Linked DNA regions of Homo sapiens: region 2 is linked to region 1. Evidence: fine-mapped expression QTL. A gene starts in region 1. The other region holds a variant in brackets. All regions are shown on one strand. Distances are between the middles of the regions.

The links. PIP is the estimated chance that this variant, and not a neighbour inherited with it, causes the effect.
Region 2: its variant is fine-mapped to the expression of CRTAM in whole blood (TOPMed, PIP 0.96).

Annotation. Positions count from the first base shown.
Region 1 is chr11:122,834,535-122,842,832 of GRCh38, reverse strand. It overlaps CRTAM (cytotoxic and regulatory T cell molecule), which reads right to left and starts at 4,333. Exons shown (of 10, transcript NM_019604.4): 1 at 4,241-4,333. The coding sequence starts at 4,286.
Region 2 is chr11:122,866,916-122,875,205 of GRCh38, reverse strand. It overlaps CRTAM (cytotoxic and regulatory T cell molecule), which reads right to left. Exons shown (of 10, transcript NM_019604.4): 8 at 7,651-7,797; 9 at 7,107-7,193; 10 at 2,563-3,937. The coding sequence ends at 3,807. Among named protein-coding and RNA genes, the nearest start is that of JHY, 12 kb to the left of the region's middle. The variant A/C (reference allele first, on the strand shown) is at 3,486.

The sequences.
Region 1 (8,298 bases):
GAGTTCCCTTATATAAATTAATGTCATCACCAACCACTGCACACCAGATATTTGAGAGGTGCTCTAAACTCTTCTTTCTCCAAAACATCCTTTAATCAATTTAGTCCTCTTTTGTCACTATTATTGCTGCCTTAGTTAAGGACTCCATCATTTCTTTCCTGGACCACTGTAATAACTTAGTTCTAGTCTCTCTTCTCTCTAATTCATCATCATCATCTGGTTCTAGGATTACATTTTAAAACCATGAATTTGAGGCCGGGCGTGGTGGCTCAACGCCTGTAATCCCAGCACTTTGGGAGGCCGAGGCGGGTGGATCTCCTGAGGTCAGGAGTTCGAGACCAGCCTGGCCGACATAGTGAAACCCCATGTCTACTAAAAATACAAAAAATTAGCCAGGGATGGTGGCAGGCACCTGTAATCCCAGCTACTCTGGAGGCTGAGGCAGGAGAATCACTTGAACCTGGGAGGTGGAGGTTGTGGTGAGTGAGATTGTGCCATTGCACTCCAGCCAGGGCAACAAGAATGAAATTCCATCTCAACAAACAAACAAACAAACAAACAAACATATAACCCATGAATTTGATTATGTCTCTTCCTTCATTCAAGTGTTTGCTATGGCTTCCATTGCCTATAGGAATCAGGCCCAAATTCCAGCCGACTTGACTCCTGTGTTCTCCTCCTTTGCCATGTCGTGATACTCCTTTTCAGATAGTCCTTGTACATGTCCACTTGCTGTTTCCAGAAAGTTCCAGGCTCCAGAAGATAGTTTGTCTTTTTCTATGATATTCTCTTGTCCTGGAATGTCTTTCTCATCTCCTTCAAGACTCAACATTAAGACCCAACTCAAGACTCAACTTATAGGCTCAACTCAAATTACACAACTTTTGTCAAAACTTCCAAAACAGGCCTTAGCTTCCCTTTTCCCCATAATGTCTTTCCCCTAGTTTCCCAAAGTCTTGAGATATACTTCTATTACAGCACTTAGCACATTACTTTATAATTATTTGGTTACAGGTGTTTCTCTGTAGATAGATTACAAACTCCTTATGGAAAAGCTGTTTGCCATCCACTCATTTTAGCATAATGTAAAATTTTAGATATTGGTTGAATTAGTGGATAAAAATGAGTAAATAGGCCGGGCTCGGTGGCTCACACCTGTAATCCCAGCACTTTGGAAGGCTGAGGCAGGCGGATCATGAGATCAGGAGATCGAGACTATCCTGGCTAACATGGTGAAAGCCTGTCTCTACTAAAAATACAAAAAATTAGCCAGGAGTGGTGGCGGGTGCCTGTAGTCCCAGCTACTCGGGAGGCTGAGGCAGGAGAATGGCGTCAACCCGGGAGGTGGAGCTTGCAGTGAGCTGAGATCACACCACTGCACTCCAGCCTGGGCGACGGAGCAAGACTCTGTCTCAAAAAAAAAAAAAATAGAGTAAAAGTATATATTTAGGAATAAATATTATAATAGGATGCTAACTTTGCTCTTTAACTGTTATATCAAATAATAAAGACTAGGGCTAAGTTAAAGCCAGAGACATGCAATGCATTAATTCTCAAATCAGAGCCCTAGTTACATGACTGTCATGAGGCATTAAGCAAAAGTGTGTTTTAATTCAGATCATTACAAAAAAAGATTTTTATTATTTTTAGATTGAATCAATAGAGAAAATTGCAGGTATAAAAATAAATCAGACTTGTCAGAATCGGAATATTTTTAGTACATTTTAAAGAAGCTGTCTCAACATGTCATCTAACATGTGACTTTTTCCTGGGCAAAGAAAGTATGAAAAGAACTACTCAATTTGCAATTTTCCTTTGTTTTCTGCATCCTACCCTCCACAAAACAATGAAAACAGAGGGTTCAAAATTCATTGGATTTGACATTTTCATTGTCTACAGTGTAATTTAATGGGATGAATTTTGAAAAATGCTTCATTTTTATTGTGTTTTTACCAGTCCTAAGACTATTTATTCTGGGAGTGGCCTTGAAAAGAGGGCAGGCTCTGAGATTACGTGACTTTTTTTTTTTCCATAAATTTTTGGCAGCCATAGAAGTAACACTGTAGAAGTAGTCACAGTGATCTTCCCATAATTTAATTTGCTAAAATCAGCTGACAGTTTATAGCTTTGCCAAAACTGATGATTTGCTGCCTTTTTTGCTGACAAGAAAGCAACATGGTCACCTCCTCCTAATTACGTCTGGGATGGGCTTGAGCAAGGTTAGGTCAGGGGTGGCAGCCACTGCTCAAATGCCATTGAGCTTAGATGCCCTCGGGTGGCCCCTTGAACGAGTTTTCAAATAGGACTTTTTAATATTGAATCCTCCAAATTGTGAAAGTCAGTGGTTTTCCAACTTTTGATCCACATTAATACATTTTCTGTCACAACTAGTACACACACACACACACACACGTTAATTAGAAGTTTCATGAAATAAATACTTTTACTATGTGCTTTATAGGCTGGTATTTATGTTGTCATATTCTAGCTTTAAAACTTGGGCAGGTTACATAACTTCTTTTCTCATCTTTAAATTGGGGATATTAGTACCTACCTCAGTACTTCCGCTATGATTAAGTGTAATTAACACAAAGTACTCAGCACTGTGCATGAAACAATATTTTTCCTCTCTATATAAATAATATTTAAGTAATTTAGGTTTACCTTGAAACATAATTTTTGCTATTTATTTAAAAAATGTATTTTTATGAGTTATTTTTTATGAGGCAATAACTCAAAGCCTGAAAAAGTTAAGGTCAGTGAAAGGCTTTAAACTCTGGAAAAATTGAAATCATCCTAATTTTAGCTGTCTAAATGTACTCTTTTTGAATGTATTAGCTATTCTTTAAGCCACTTAATGAAGAAACTAATATTATTCATTACCAAAATTGAATCCTTATTAAGTGCCTCAGGGTACAGGGACCAAAAAAAGAAGGCATTAATTGAAGTATATAAAATAGGGAATTGAAGTACTATGTAAAATAGGAAATCGAGTTTTTTAAAGTAGCGTCCTTCAGATGCCATTCCAGATTAAATGTAGATTTAGAAGGATAGGTGCATTTCATGAAACAGAACTACAGTTTCAATATTTGGTAACAAACACACAAAAAGCAAAATTTTTGAGTGGATTTGTGAGGGATGTCCTTTGCATGAATCTGATACAATTGTAAGCAGAGACTGAGGGACAACAGGAGCCACTTCCTACACCCCTGCCCCCACTTTTGGGTAGAAAATAATTTGACCTGCTCCAAAAAGGTAACTGCTTCTATCCTTAATTTTCATAATGCTACATTAGGATTAAGCACTAAAATCCAAATTTGAAAATTATAGTAAAATGTAAAGTATAACTTACTCTTTAAAAATAAACACGAAGTTTTCATTGGTCTCATTATTACCTCTGAGCTAAATAAGTGTTGCACAGCGCTTTATCATTTTCAAAGTGCTTTCACATTTGAAATTTGATCCTTCTAACAATCCAGGGAGTTTGGTGGATCAAAAGTTTTTATCATTTTCATTTTAAGATGCAGAAACTGAGTTTCAAAGAGATTAAATCGTTTGGCTAAGATTTATACAGCAAGGAAATTTTAAAATTCAACGTGGAGGCCGGGCGCGGTGGCTTACGCCTGTAATCCCAGCACTTTGGGAGGCTGAGGTGGGCAGATCACGAGGTCAGGAGATTGAGACCATCCTGGCTAACACGGTGAAACCCCGTCTCTACTAAAAATATAAAAAAATTAGCCGGGCGTGGTGGTGGCGGGCACCTGTAGTCCCAGCTACTTGGGAGGCTGAGGCAGGAGAAAGGCGTGAACCCGGGAGGCGGAGCTTGCAGTGAGCCGAGGTCGTGCCGCTGCACTCCAGCCTGGGCGACAGAGCGAGACTGTGTCTCATAAATAAATAAATAAATAAAATAAAATAAAATTCAATACGGATGCTCTTTCAACTGGTATGCCCTTAAAAGACAGAGCCTAATAAGCTTGTTTCATCTTGCCGTAACATAGGACCCACAGAGACACACACTATAATGATCCTTTCTATACTCCTTAGCCATTGAACGAGAGATCAAATAAACGCAGTAACATCCCTCAGATGCATGATTTGAGCATGGCTTGGAAAGTATTAGCAGTTACCTGGGTTGTCTTCTACAGCAGCTCCTCTGTAAATGCAGTTGACTGACTGATAGGTAGATGTGGCAAAACATTAAGTCAGCTGAGCAACAACAAAAATAACTCTAAGTCCTTACCTTGCAAGGGGAACCATGCCAGCAAGCTGAGAACTCTCCACCACATACTGTGCTGTGCTGCTGTGGCACCTTTGTCAACTTCCTCTAGATTCTGAGACAAATGGAGCTGAGTAGTTTCTTTTAAAGGGGGAGAGGCAGTAGATCTGTGACCTCATGTGTATCAACTCCTCCATCTGTCTGGAAGCCCCCTCTTAGTTAGCTGCCCCCAGAACACCTCCTGGTGGAACATTTTGGGGACCACATGTATTATCTTGATGGCAGAGAGGTGTGAGTGATGTGTTGGTGACAAAAATTGTTTTACCACAAGTGGGTAGTACTGGTAAATCAACTAGTTGCAAGGTTTTTAGAGGGAGCATGGGTGGGAGAAATACTGTAAAATGTCCCTGTGTAGTGACGTCATCCTTATTTTTACTTTTCTAGTTTATTAGATAAATACAATTAGATAATTTTTGCTCAACCTTTGGGAATATTTTATTTCTATGCTGACATCAATTTATAATTGTTGTCGGGGAGGAATTCATTCATTCATATAGATATACTCATTTTTGAAATCTATATATCTGTCCACCCACCCATCCACCCATCTTTTCATCCACCCACTCACAAATACAAATCTATTCATCCACCTATCCATCCATCCATCCTTCCATCCATCCACCCACACATCCATCCACCCATCCATTTATCCTTCCATCCACCCACTCACTCATGTATTACCTGCCCACTCATTCCCCATCCACCCATCCATCCATCTATTCATCCACACATCCATCCATCTCTCCATCCATCCAGCCAGCCAGCCATCCATCTATTTATCCATCCATCTATCCATCTATCCATCCATCCATCCATCCATCCATCCATCCATCCATCCATCCATCCATCCATTTATCCACCCATCCATCCATTCACCCATCCATCTATCCATCCATCCATCCGTCCATGACCTATTCATTCACCCACCCATCTATCTATACATGCAAATACTCATCCATCCACCCAACCACCCATCTATCTATCCACCCACGCATTCATCCATTCACCCACTCATTCATCCATTTACCCACCCATCTATCTATACATATGTCCGTCCGTCCATCCATCCATCCATCCATCCATCCATCCATCCTTCTATCCACCCATTCATCTTGTCACCTGTACAGCATCTAGTATGCACTACTTTGAGACATGCTCAAATAAAAAACATAAATTCCTTGTTTTTCAGGAGAATATAATCTAGTGGGGGAGACAATGTACATATGAACAGTTCTGGTATTTAATTTTCATTAATTGGACAAATTGAGATAGATTTAATGTAGTTTTTCCAGGAGCACACAGTAAAATATTAGTAAGTTTATGTTTAGAAAACAGAGATCAGTCTGCAATGCTTGGAAAATGAAAAGGAAACACTACTTACTGGCTCTAATTGAAATTAGTGTTAATACTCTGATAAATTTGATGAAGTTTGGGTAGGAAAAGTCTTACTCATCAAAAATGTCTTCCAAATATTTTGTTGGCTGGGCACAGTGGCTCATGCCTGTAATCTTAGCATTTTGGGAGGCTGAGGTGTGAGGATCATCTGAAGCCAGGAGTTCAAGACCAACCTGGGCAACATAGTGAGACCCCCATCTCTACAAAAAATACAAAAATTAGCTGAGCATGGTGGTGCATGCCTGTAGTCCCAGATACTTGGGAGGCTGAGGTGGAAGGGTTGCTTGAATGCAGGAGGTTGAGGCTGCGGTGAGCCGTGATCACACTACTGTACTGCAATCTGGGTGACAAAGTGACACCCTGTCTTAAAAAAATAAAAATAAAAAATCCTCCAAAACACAATATTTTGTCTTTCAAATTTTTCATTTTTTAATTTTTTCCCTTTTGCTCATAATATTCCATCCAGGAACTTCTAATTTTTATACTTGTCCTCAGTAGAAGAGAACAGTTTACCCAGGGTCACTCTTCCTCCATAGGGCATCCATGAGGGGGTCTCAAGGTCCTTTTCCCTTGCCTTGAGGTGGAGCAACTCTGAAGCTCCCCAAGGGATCAGGATCAGCTGAGATCTTTGTTGTAACTGCACCTCAGTCCAGCTTCTACCGATTCTCCAACTTGCTTCCTTCTTGTCACCAAGAGTACTCATCTATAAACTTCTGCACACGGATCTCTGTATCAGCTTCTGTTTCCCAGGAACCTGACCCACAACAACACTTGACATAGGTTGTCAACGAGTGAATGAAAGACTAAATTGACTCTTTATTTGAGATGTAAATGCTACTCTTTTTGCTCTGAAGTCTAAAAAGATGTTTGACTTACAATTTCCCCAGAGCATTAAAGAAGAGCTTACTTTAAATTGCACTTTGGACGATGGAGAGTGTATCCTTTTCATCCACGGGTGCCATATTCAACTGGTTGAAAACCTTGACAAATGTCACAATAGTCCACTGGACTTGGACATTAAGAACGGTTGGTGGGGGAAATGCTACAAGGTGAACTGGTGGACGACATACATGTGTGCTTTCCAGGGTCCCTGTTCTCATTACCCCCACTTCAGCCTGCAGCTCATGTAGTATTCAACAGGAGAGGGCAGCAGATTGTGGCTGCTCAGTGAATTGGGAGAAAAAGACGAGGTTGGAAGGTAATAAGTGGTCTACCTATTTTCTAATGGGAAAGAGTCTACTGAACAGTATGTGGGAGACCTCACAACTGATAGCTAGTTTGTCATTTTGGTCTCCGTTTTATGAAATCTTCATATTATGTTTCAATACTAATAGGAAATAACATTTGGTGGGGTGGCAGAGGGGGGACATATTTTGGAGAAATAAACAAACATCCTCTCTATTTTTCATCGTCACCCTTGTCAACCTGAGTTTTGGGGGTGGGGGGGTGCAAACATGAAAAATAAGACATTTATTAAATAGGCTAAAGATGAACTGTTTTAAGGGTCAGAAAACAGGGGATTTCCTTATGTCTAGAAGCCACTGGGTTTTTTTGTTGCATTTACAAAAGGGGCCTACACTTTCTTCTTGACCTTTCACAGATTCTGTGAAGAATCGTGACCTTTCCCAAGGTCAGAGTAAGAGGTGGACTCGCCTGCATCTACCAGAAGATGCCTCAGATAACTCACACCAAGTGTTGAGGTTTTCTGAGCACTGCTGTAAAACTTGCACAAAGTGACTGTGGAGTTTCTAAGCCAGAGCAGCAGCCTTTGAAATTAATTATTGATTCAGAGAGAAGTTTCCTAGCAGTAGTGGGAGCTTAGTGGGACGAGCATGGGAGTGAGTAGCAGACAGACCCAGGCTTGTCCCCTAGGCCCTGTCACTAGCAGCTGTGTAGCACTAAGCACACTACCTGCCTGTTGGAATCAGTTTCCTCACTTGTAAAATGGGAAGAATAATTACAGCCTGAGGTGACTGTCCAGGAATCATAAGGCAGGAGCTGAGAAAGTTCGACTGTAGCATTTTTAAAAATGAAGAATTGGCCGGGCGTGGTGGCTCACGCCTGTAATCTCAGCACTTTGGGAGGCTGAGATGGGTGGATTGCCTAAGCTCAGGGGTTTGCAACCAGCCTGGGCAACACGGTGAATCCCTATCTCTACTAAAATACAAAAAATTAGCCAGACTACGGTAGCTGTAGTTCCAGCTACTTGGGAGGCTGAGGCAGGAGAATTGCTTGAACTTGGGAGGCGGAGGTTGCAGTGAGCCGAGATTGCGCCACTGCCCTCCAGCCTCGGCGACAGAACGAGACTCTGTCTCAAAAAAAATAAATAAAATTTAAAAAACCCAAAGAATTAAGAAGTTTGCCTGAAGTGACACAGTGAGTCAGTGATACACACACACACACACACACACACACACACACACACATTTTTCTTTGTCTATGAGATTCCTTTGAAGGACTTCAAATTTTTATACTTGCCCTCGGTGGAAGAGAACCAGCTCACCCGGGGCCACACCTTCTTTATGGGGCACTCATGGATGGTTAAATTGAAAATATTATAATACCCAGAGCACCCAGCATCTTGGCACAAAAAACATTCTCCATAAATCTGCAGACCTCAGGTGGCT
Region 2 (8,290 bases), 32 kb before region 1:
AATTCTCTTGGGTATATTCTTTCTAGGAGTAGAACTGCTGAAGCATATGGTAACCCTATGTGTAACTTTTTGAGTAACGCAAGGCTGTTTTCCAATGTGGCTGAGCTATTTTACATTCTCACCAGTCATGTCTGAGGGCTCTCATTTCTCTATAACCTTTCCAAAATTTGTTATTTTCTCTTTTTTATTATAGCCATTTTTATAGGTGTGAAGCGGCATCATATTCCAGTTTCGATTTGCGTTTCCCATCTTTTCTTGTGCTCATGGCTGTTTTTATTACATAGTTATTTTAATGATATATTTCAAATTTCAGTTTAAAAACTAGTGTCTGAGCAATCTCTAAAGCTGATCAGTACATTTTTAAAGTATTGTAAAAACTCATGAGTTTTAATGTATTTAACATGTTTCAATCACTACTCTTTATTTATTTATTCATTTATTTTTATTTTATTTATTTATTTTTTTTTGAGACAGGGTCTCGCTCTGTCACCAGGCTGGAGTGCAGTGGCGCGATCTCAGCTCACTGCAACCTCCCTCTTCCGGGTTCAAGCGATTCTCCTGCCTCAGCTTCCTGAGTAGCTGGGACTACAGGTGCATGCCACTACGCCCAGCAAATTTTTGTATTTTTAGTAGAGACGAGGTTTCACCATGTTGACCAGGATGGTCTTGGTCTCTTGACCTCGTGATCTACCTGCCTCAGCCTCCCAAAGTGCTGGAATTACAGGCATGAGCCACCATGCCCGGCCCAATCACTACTCTTTTTTAATGCTCAGATTATCCCATCTTTGGCCACTGAAAGTCCCTGGAGGGTGTACACAAATTGGTTTCTGGGCCCTTTAACACAGTTCCAGAAGAGTCTTTGATAGCTTCCTTTCTTTCTAGTATAAAATGTTCTAGCCTCGTTGATGTGGTTTGGATATTTGTTCCCTCCAAATCTCATGTCGAAATGTAATCTCCAGTGTTGAAGGTGGGGCCTGGTAGAAGGTATTTTGATCACAGGGGTAGGTCCCTCAAGAATAGCTTGGTACCATCCTGTTGCTAATGGGTGAGTTCTCACTCTGAGTTCATCGAGATCTGGTTGTTTAAAAGTGTGTGGGCCAGTTTGGCAACTCATGTCTATAATCTCAGCACTTTGGGAGGCCGAGGTGGGCAGATCACTTCAGCCCAGGAGTTTGAGATCAACCTAGGCAAGATGGCATTTGGGAGAATAATGACATTTTTGTGGCCTTAGTTTTGGTTTGCTTCTAACTGGAAACAAGACATAGAGCAGAAAACGTAAGAAAAAATTAACATTTAAAAAAATTTTTTTTTCAGACAGAGTCTTGCTCTGTCTCCCAGACTGGAGTGCAGTAGTGCGATCTTGGCTTACTGCCACCTCCGCCTCCCAGGTTCAAGCAATTGTCCTGCCTCAGCCTCCCGAGTAGCTGGGATTACAGGTGCCCGCCACCACACCCAGCTAATTTTTGTATTTTTATTAGAGATGGGGTTTCACCATCTTGGCCCGGCTGGTCTCGAACTCCTCACCTCGTGATCCACCCGCCTCAGCCTCCCAAAGTGCTCGGATTACAGGTGTGAGCCACTGCGCCTGGCCTAAAAATTAACATATTTCAACAGGTCTAGAGTAATTATCAATTATAACAAATTTGCTCTTGAACAAATTTGTTCAAAGCAATCACAGGAAGGGGGAGGGCTTCTCTCTTGGAAGGTACAACATTGAACAATAGAACTATATTTCATCTAGCTCAAAACCCCATTATATGCCAGGCACAGTGGCTCATGCCTGTAATCCCAGCACTCTGGGATTGTATTTTTTGGTAGAAGCAATTCTCCTGACTCAGCCTTCTGAGTAGCTGGGATTACAGGCATGCACCACTACACCCAGCTAATTTTTGCATTTTTAGTAGAAATGGGGTTTCACCATGTTGGCCAGGCTGGTCTCGAACTCCAGACCTCAGGTGATCCGCCTGCCTCTGCTTCCTAAAGTGCTGGGATTACAGGCGTGAGCCATTGTGCCTGGCCCAATGAAATAAACTTAACATCGCTTCTGTGACAGTCCTATGAGAGCTGCACAACTTGAATCTAACCACGAGGAAGCAGACAAAGCCAAATTGAGAGATGATCTACAAAATAACCAGCCTGTAATCTTCAAAAATATCCAGGTCATGAAAGGCAAGCCAAGACCGAAGAACTGTTCCAAACTGAATGAGACTAAAATGAAGTGTGACTCTGAACTGGATCCTTTGGGACAATTGGAGAAACCTGAATGGAGTCTGAGGACTGTTCGTGGAAGCAGAACAGTGCTAATTTCCCACTTTTGATGGTTGCATTGTGTTTCTAAAGGAGAGCGTTCTTATTTGTAGGAAGCACACACTGAAGGATTTGGGGGGTGATGGGTATTGTGTCAACTTACTCTCAAATGATTCCAGGGGGAAAAGTGCTTTGTTCTATCTTTACACTTTTCTGTAATGTTGTGATTGTCCAAAACAGTTTTGTCAAGAGAACAAAAAATCAGCATGGTTGGATCTGGCCCCTATCACAAATTACAGACTTACAATGTGCACATATGTTATTTTGTAATTGGTTTATTCAGATTCCAACAATGAGAAATGCTCCACATAAATGCCAAAGTTTGCTGTATAGCTTAAATAAACTGATCGGAAAAGAAAGGCATGTCCCATGTTACTTTCACACGTGAAAACAGGAAGTATAACTTGGTATAACCACTAGAAAAACAAACATCTATTCTGCTTTTTATTAAAACATTTTAAAAAGCCATCCATTAGGTCAATAATCAGTAAATTCAACCCATCATTTTCTTTTGCACATGTATTGGTCATGGAATTTCCAGGTAAAAATCTTATCTGACAGACAAGGTCCGCTCATGTGATTTAGTAATCTAAGGAATTCGAATCTTTGGGCCTACCCTGAGCTCCTCTTTGTGCCTTGGGGCATGGGTTCTGGGGCCTTCTTGCTCATCTGACTCATTTATTGTCATGTATCACTCCTCCCTGACATTGCTTTGTGCTGGTTACATCTTAAAAGTCTGTCTTGGAAGTAACTTCTTTTTTTTTGAGACAGAGTCTCCCTCTGTTGCCCAGGCTGGAGTGCAGTGGTGAGATCTTGACTCACTGCAATCTCCACCTCCCAGGTTCAAGCGATTCTCCACCCTCAGCCTCCCAAGTATCTGAGACTACAGGTGCGCACCACTACGCCTGGCTAATTTTTGCATTTTTAGTAGAGACGGGGTTTCACTATGTTGGCCAGGCTGGTCTCCAACTCCTGACCTCAAGTGATCTGCCTACCTCAGCCTCCCAAAGTGCTAGGATTACAGGCATGAGCCACCGCGCCTGGCCAGAAGTAACTTCTTAGGATCAGAGATCTTTAGGTACTTTGCATCCCAAATTTCTTTATTTTGTGACCAGAAGAAAATATTAAAAAGAAAAAAAAATTTTTTAAACAGTTCCATTAGAGCAAAGCATCAAAAA[A/C]TCCTGTTCCATTTGAGGTAGGATGTTAGCTGCTCACACTGACCCTGATCCCCAAGGCTTCGTAGAATCCTCCTGCTCTGAAGTAGTGTCAGGCATAATTATTTTTTTGCTTTTCTTTTTTAAACTACAAGCTTTATGTGCATGGTTTGGTCCTCATGTTGCTGCCCTAGCTCCGGGGCAGATCATTATCCGAGGACACCATCTTGCATTGCACTAAGAGGTCATTATTAATGTCTCAGCAATTAAGCTCCTTCCCCCAGGCTGGTCCACTGAGGTGACACTGCGGCAACCCTGAAATCACATGTTCCATTGCAGAGAGCACTACACAATACTCTCTGGTACTTGGATGTGCTTTTCTTCTAATTTTGAATGTTGTACATTTTCCTTCCTCTTTGTTTTTGCTTCTGAGTACAACTTTGTGATGTAGTTCATGCAACGCATAGGGTGGGAAGCTGAAAGAAAAACATGTTGAAGATGAATATTTATTTTGAATAACATTGCACCCATTTACTTGAAACACTTTGATTGGATATCATATTTTTAGGTTCACATATTGCTTTATAAAAACCTAAAACTTACTGATGCATATAAATGGTCTGAAGGCATTATTATATTCTTTTTTGTTTTTCGTGGTTTTTTTTTGAGACAGGTTCTCACTCTGCCACCCAGGCTGAAGTGCAGTGGTGTGATCACGGCCCACTGCAGCCTCAGCCTCCCGGGCTCAAGTGATCCTCTAACCTTAGCCTCTTGAGTACCTGGAATTACAGGCACACACTACCATGCCCAGCTAATTTTCAAATTATTTGTAGAGACGGGGTTTCACTATATTGCCTAGGCTGGTCTCAAACACCTGGGCTCAAGTGATCCACCCGCCTCAGCCTCCCCAAATCCTGGGATTATAGGCATAAGCCACTGCACTGGCCTATACTATAATTTTTAAAGAAGTCTTACTATATAAACAATATACTGGTAAACGTGAAATAAAATATACAGATATTTCTGCTGTAAAATAATCTGTTGCTGACCATAACATATTGCCTTAGCAAAATTGCACACTAGAAATAACAGGGCTTACTGCAAAAATAGGGTCGGGGCAGATCACACTCAAGGCCTATGCAATTCTGTACAAAGAGACTAGAGATGGCCCCAGAGAATATTTTTAATATGTCCAAAACAACACAATTAAAATGCTAGATTTGAGGGTGCTAAGGCAAGGAGGATGAAAGTGAAGGCTTGAGCTCGGGAGAAAGTGAAACCCCCAGCAAACCCCTGAAGATGTACTTTTCTGGGGAGGAATCCCCTGAGTCGTGCAGGTACTCATTTTAAATATTCTTAAAGTTGGCTGGGCGTGGTGGCTCATGCCTGTAATCCCAGCACTTTGGGAGGCCAAGGTGGGTGGATCACTTGAGTCCAGGAGTTCAAGACCAGCCTGGGCAACATGGTGAAACCCCATCTCTACTAAAAATATAAAAATTAACTGGGCGTGGTGGTGCGTGCCTGTAGTCCCAGCTACTAGGAAGGCTGAGGCGGGAGGACTGATTGAGCTCGAAAGGTCAAGGCTGCAGTGACCTATGATGGCACCATGGCACTCCAGCCTGGGCAACAGAGTGAGAGACCCTGTCTCAAAAAAAAAGAAAGAAAAATTGTTTTAAAAGTTGAACTGGAAGGGCTTCCATTTTTCCAGCTAACAGACATAATTCTACTCCCACTGTTTTGGTTCTTCTTGCCTAGGAAAAACAGCTCAGGGAGCAACCCAACTCACACATGATATTAACATCATTTTCCTGTCCACCAGGTGAGTATGTGATGACGGGTATTTAGAAACAGGTGTTGCAACACAATCGACTTGGATGTTATTTACACACATTTTCCCCTCCCACCCCCAGTTTTCACACAGTCAATTCTCTTGTGTTCCTTTCCCAGCTAGTACATCTATTCATTCTTTTCAGTTCACGCTCTAGTAGGTCAAAACCTAAAGAGGCAGAGGTGTTATAAAAGACAAGCCTCCTACAAAAACCTCAGTAAAACCAATAGAATAGAGCGGCAAAACTCGCTGTATTTCTTGCAGCTCCTGGCGGGTAGAATAAGTTAGTTTGTATGGAGGAAATAATATGGTTGGAAGGTGGAATATTCTTGCTTTTCTATAGTCCTAGCTTCTGCCTTCCAGATCTTTATCAAGAATACAATCCCCAACCTCCACTTCCCATACACAATCTCCTTCCCATCCCGATTCTCTTCATTTTCTTTACATATTTTGTCTCAGGAATTGCAATGAAGTCATCCAAAGGACCTGACACATGCCTTCTTGAATTAATTGAGCCTATAGTCACTCATTTAACACAAATTTATCAACTAACCTGTGCTAGAATCTGAGGATACAGAGTAAATCTGATTACTCACCACCTAAAGGAGTATTGTAGTAGCTATGTAAAAACACCAAAAATTACAATATGGAGGAAGACGTGCTTCTATGACAAAGGTGTCATAGGATCCTCTGGTGGTCTTGGGGTATCCCTGTGTGTGACGTCAAACAGTCAAGGATGGCTTCCCAAAAGGAAGTCACCTTCTGCTACATGAACTTAACTGCTACTATTTATTTTTGCAGATGAGACTCCTTAAGTTCTACAGGATGATTTAGGAGACTTTCTAGTGCTAAAAAATCAGATTTTGATTCTTCTCCTTCTTTTTATTTATTTTTATTTTTATTTTTTTGAGGTGGAGTCCCTCTCTGTCACCCAGGTTGGAGTGCAGTGGCACGATCTCGGCTCACTGCAAGCTCCGCCTCCCGGGTTCACGCCATTCTCCTGCCTCAGCCTCCCAAGTAGCTGGGACTACAGGCTCCTGCCACCATGCCCGGCTAATTGTTTTGTATTTTTAGTAGAGACAGGGTTTCACTGTGTTAGCCAGGATGGTCTCGATCTCCTGACCTCGTGATCCGCCCGCCTCGGCCTCCCAAAGTGCTGGGATTACAGGCGTGAGCCACCGTACCCAGCCTCCTTCTTTTTAAAGGCGACTACTTAATTGCGATGGTTAATTTTAAGTGTTAAGTTGGGTGGATTAAGAAATACCTCAAATCTGGTAAAGCATTATTTTTGGGTTTGTCTATGAGGTTGTTTCTAGAGGAGATTAGTGTGTGAGTCTGAGTGGAGTAGGTGGGCATTGAGATTTGCCCTTGATGTGGATGGGCACCATCCATTCTGTTGGGGGCCCAGAAAGAACAAAATCAGAAAGAAGGCAAATGTGTTGATCTGTCTGCTGGAGCTGGAATACACTCCCTCCTCTCTCCTGGCAGCAGAACTCGAGACTCCCTAGCTTCGGATTTCAGGACTTAACGCTGGCGGTCCCCTGAGTTCTCAGGCCTTTGAACTTGGACTGAGCCAGGCTACCAGCATACCAGGGTCTCCAGTTTGCAGACCTCCTGTCCAAGGACTTGTCAGCCTCCATAATCTCATGAGCCAATTCCCCTAATAAATCCCACCTCATACACACACACACACACACACACACACACACACACACACACACACACACATATTCTGTTGTCTCTGTCTCTCTGGAGAAATCTGACTAATACATTAATGAACCTCATTGTTCAGATCTCAGGTCATACAGTTGACTTACATTGGCCATTTTTCTCTTCAGATGATGTTTCTTCATTATTTGACCTTGATCTGTAACTTTCTAGTGTGTGTTCTGAAACTTCGTTTTCTACAAAAAAAGAAAATCAAGCAACTAATTTCTGATGCCATGGACATGTAGAAATGTATATTTGAATAAGATAATACCTCTGTTACTGTGCAATAGTAGACTTACCATGCCCCTCCCATAACTCATACCTCATTAATTCAACACATAGTTTTTGATTCCTGTAGGGACTGTGCTAGGCAGTCCTGGGATTTTTATCCTTCTGTGAATAGAAGTGTCTATCATTTAATGCCAATTTCTGGATCTATGCTAGTTTCTATTGATTATACACTCTTAGACTATAGTCCCTGGAGATTCACACCCGAGTTTACTAGAAAACAAACAATTGCTTATCTGAGACAGCACTTATCAAATAGATTATGTAGTGTCTGACAGAAAGCTTTAATGGACAGAATTTCCCTTTTTTTTAGCCATTTGTTCTGGCGTCTTATAGCCCCCGTCAGGTTCCCTGCCCACTGACCTTTCTTCCATATCACATGTGCTTTCCTCAGCTTCATGATGAAGAGCTGGACTATGATGAAGAGTATGAAAATGAGGAAGGACACCAGCGTGAGCAGCAGGATGCCACTTTTCTTTCTTGCCAGTCCTAAATACTGAGGATTTGCTTCTATAAGGAAAATGAAAAAGGAGTTTAGATACTTTGGGTTTTTTTTTTTTTTTTGCCACTGGAGAATATGTAACAATACTTCTACAATGTGATATAAGCTAATAGACAGCTCAGATGAAGAGATGAGAAAGAGCTTACCCCTGAAGGTAAAGAGACTTACATTGTTCATTCTCTGAGAACAAGCAAACAGGCATACAACAAACAAGGCAATTATGTGTGATGATTTGAAAAGATTTTTTAAGTGACGTAGCTATTGGGCTAGTTATTTTTTATTTCTACAGAAAGCATATGAGAAAATCGACTTAAGTTATAGTCAGGAGATTCAAATTAGCTTTAGGAATGATTTTTAGCAAAATATAGTTAAGTAGCAAGAGGGATTGTTAAGGAGTTTAAAAAACTATCCAAATAAAATGAAAATTTATTTATCTTGGTTAGGTTAAATGTGGCCCTACAGGAAGGCATTTGGGCTAAATCAGATGAGCTTGTGAAAATA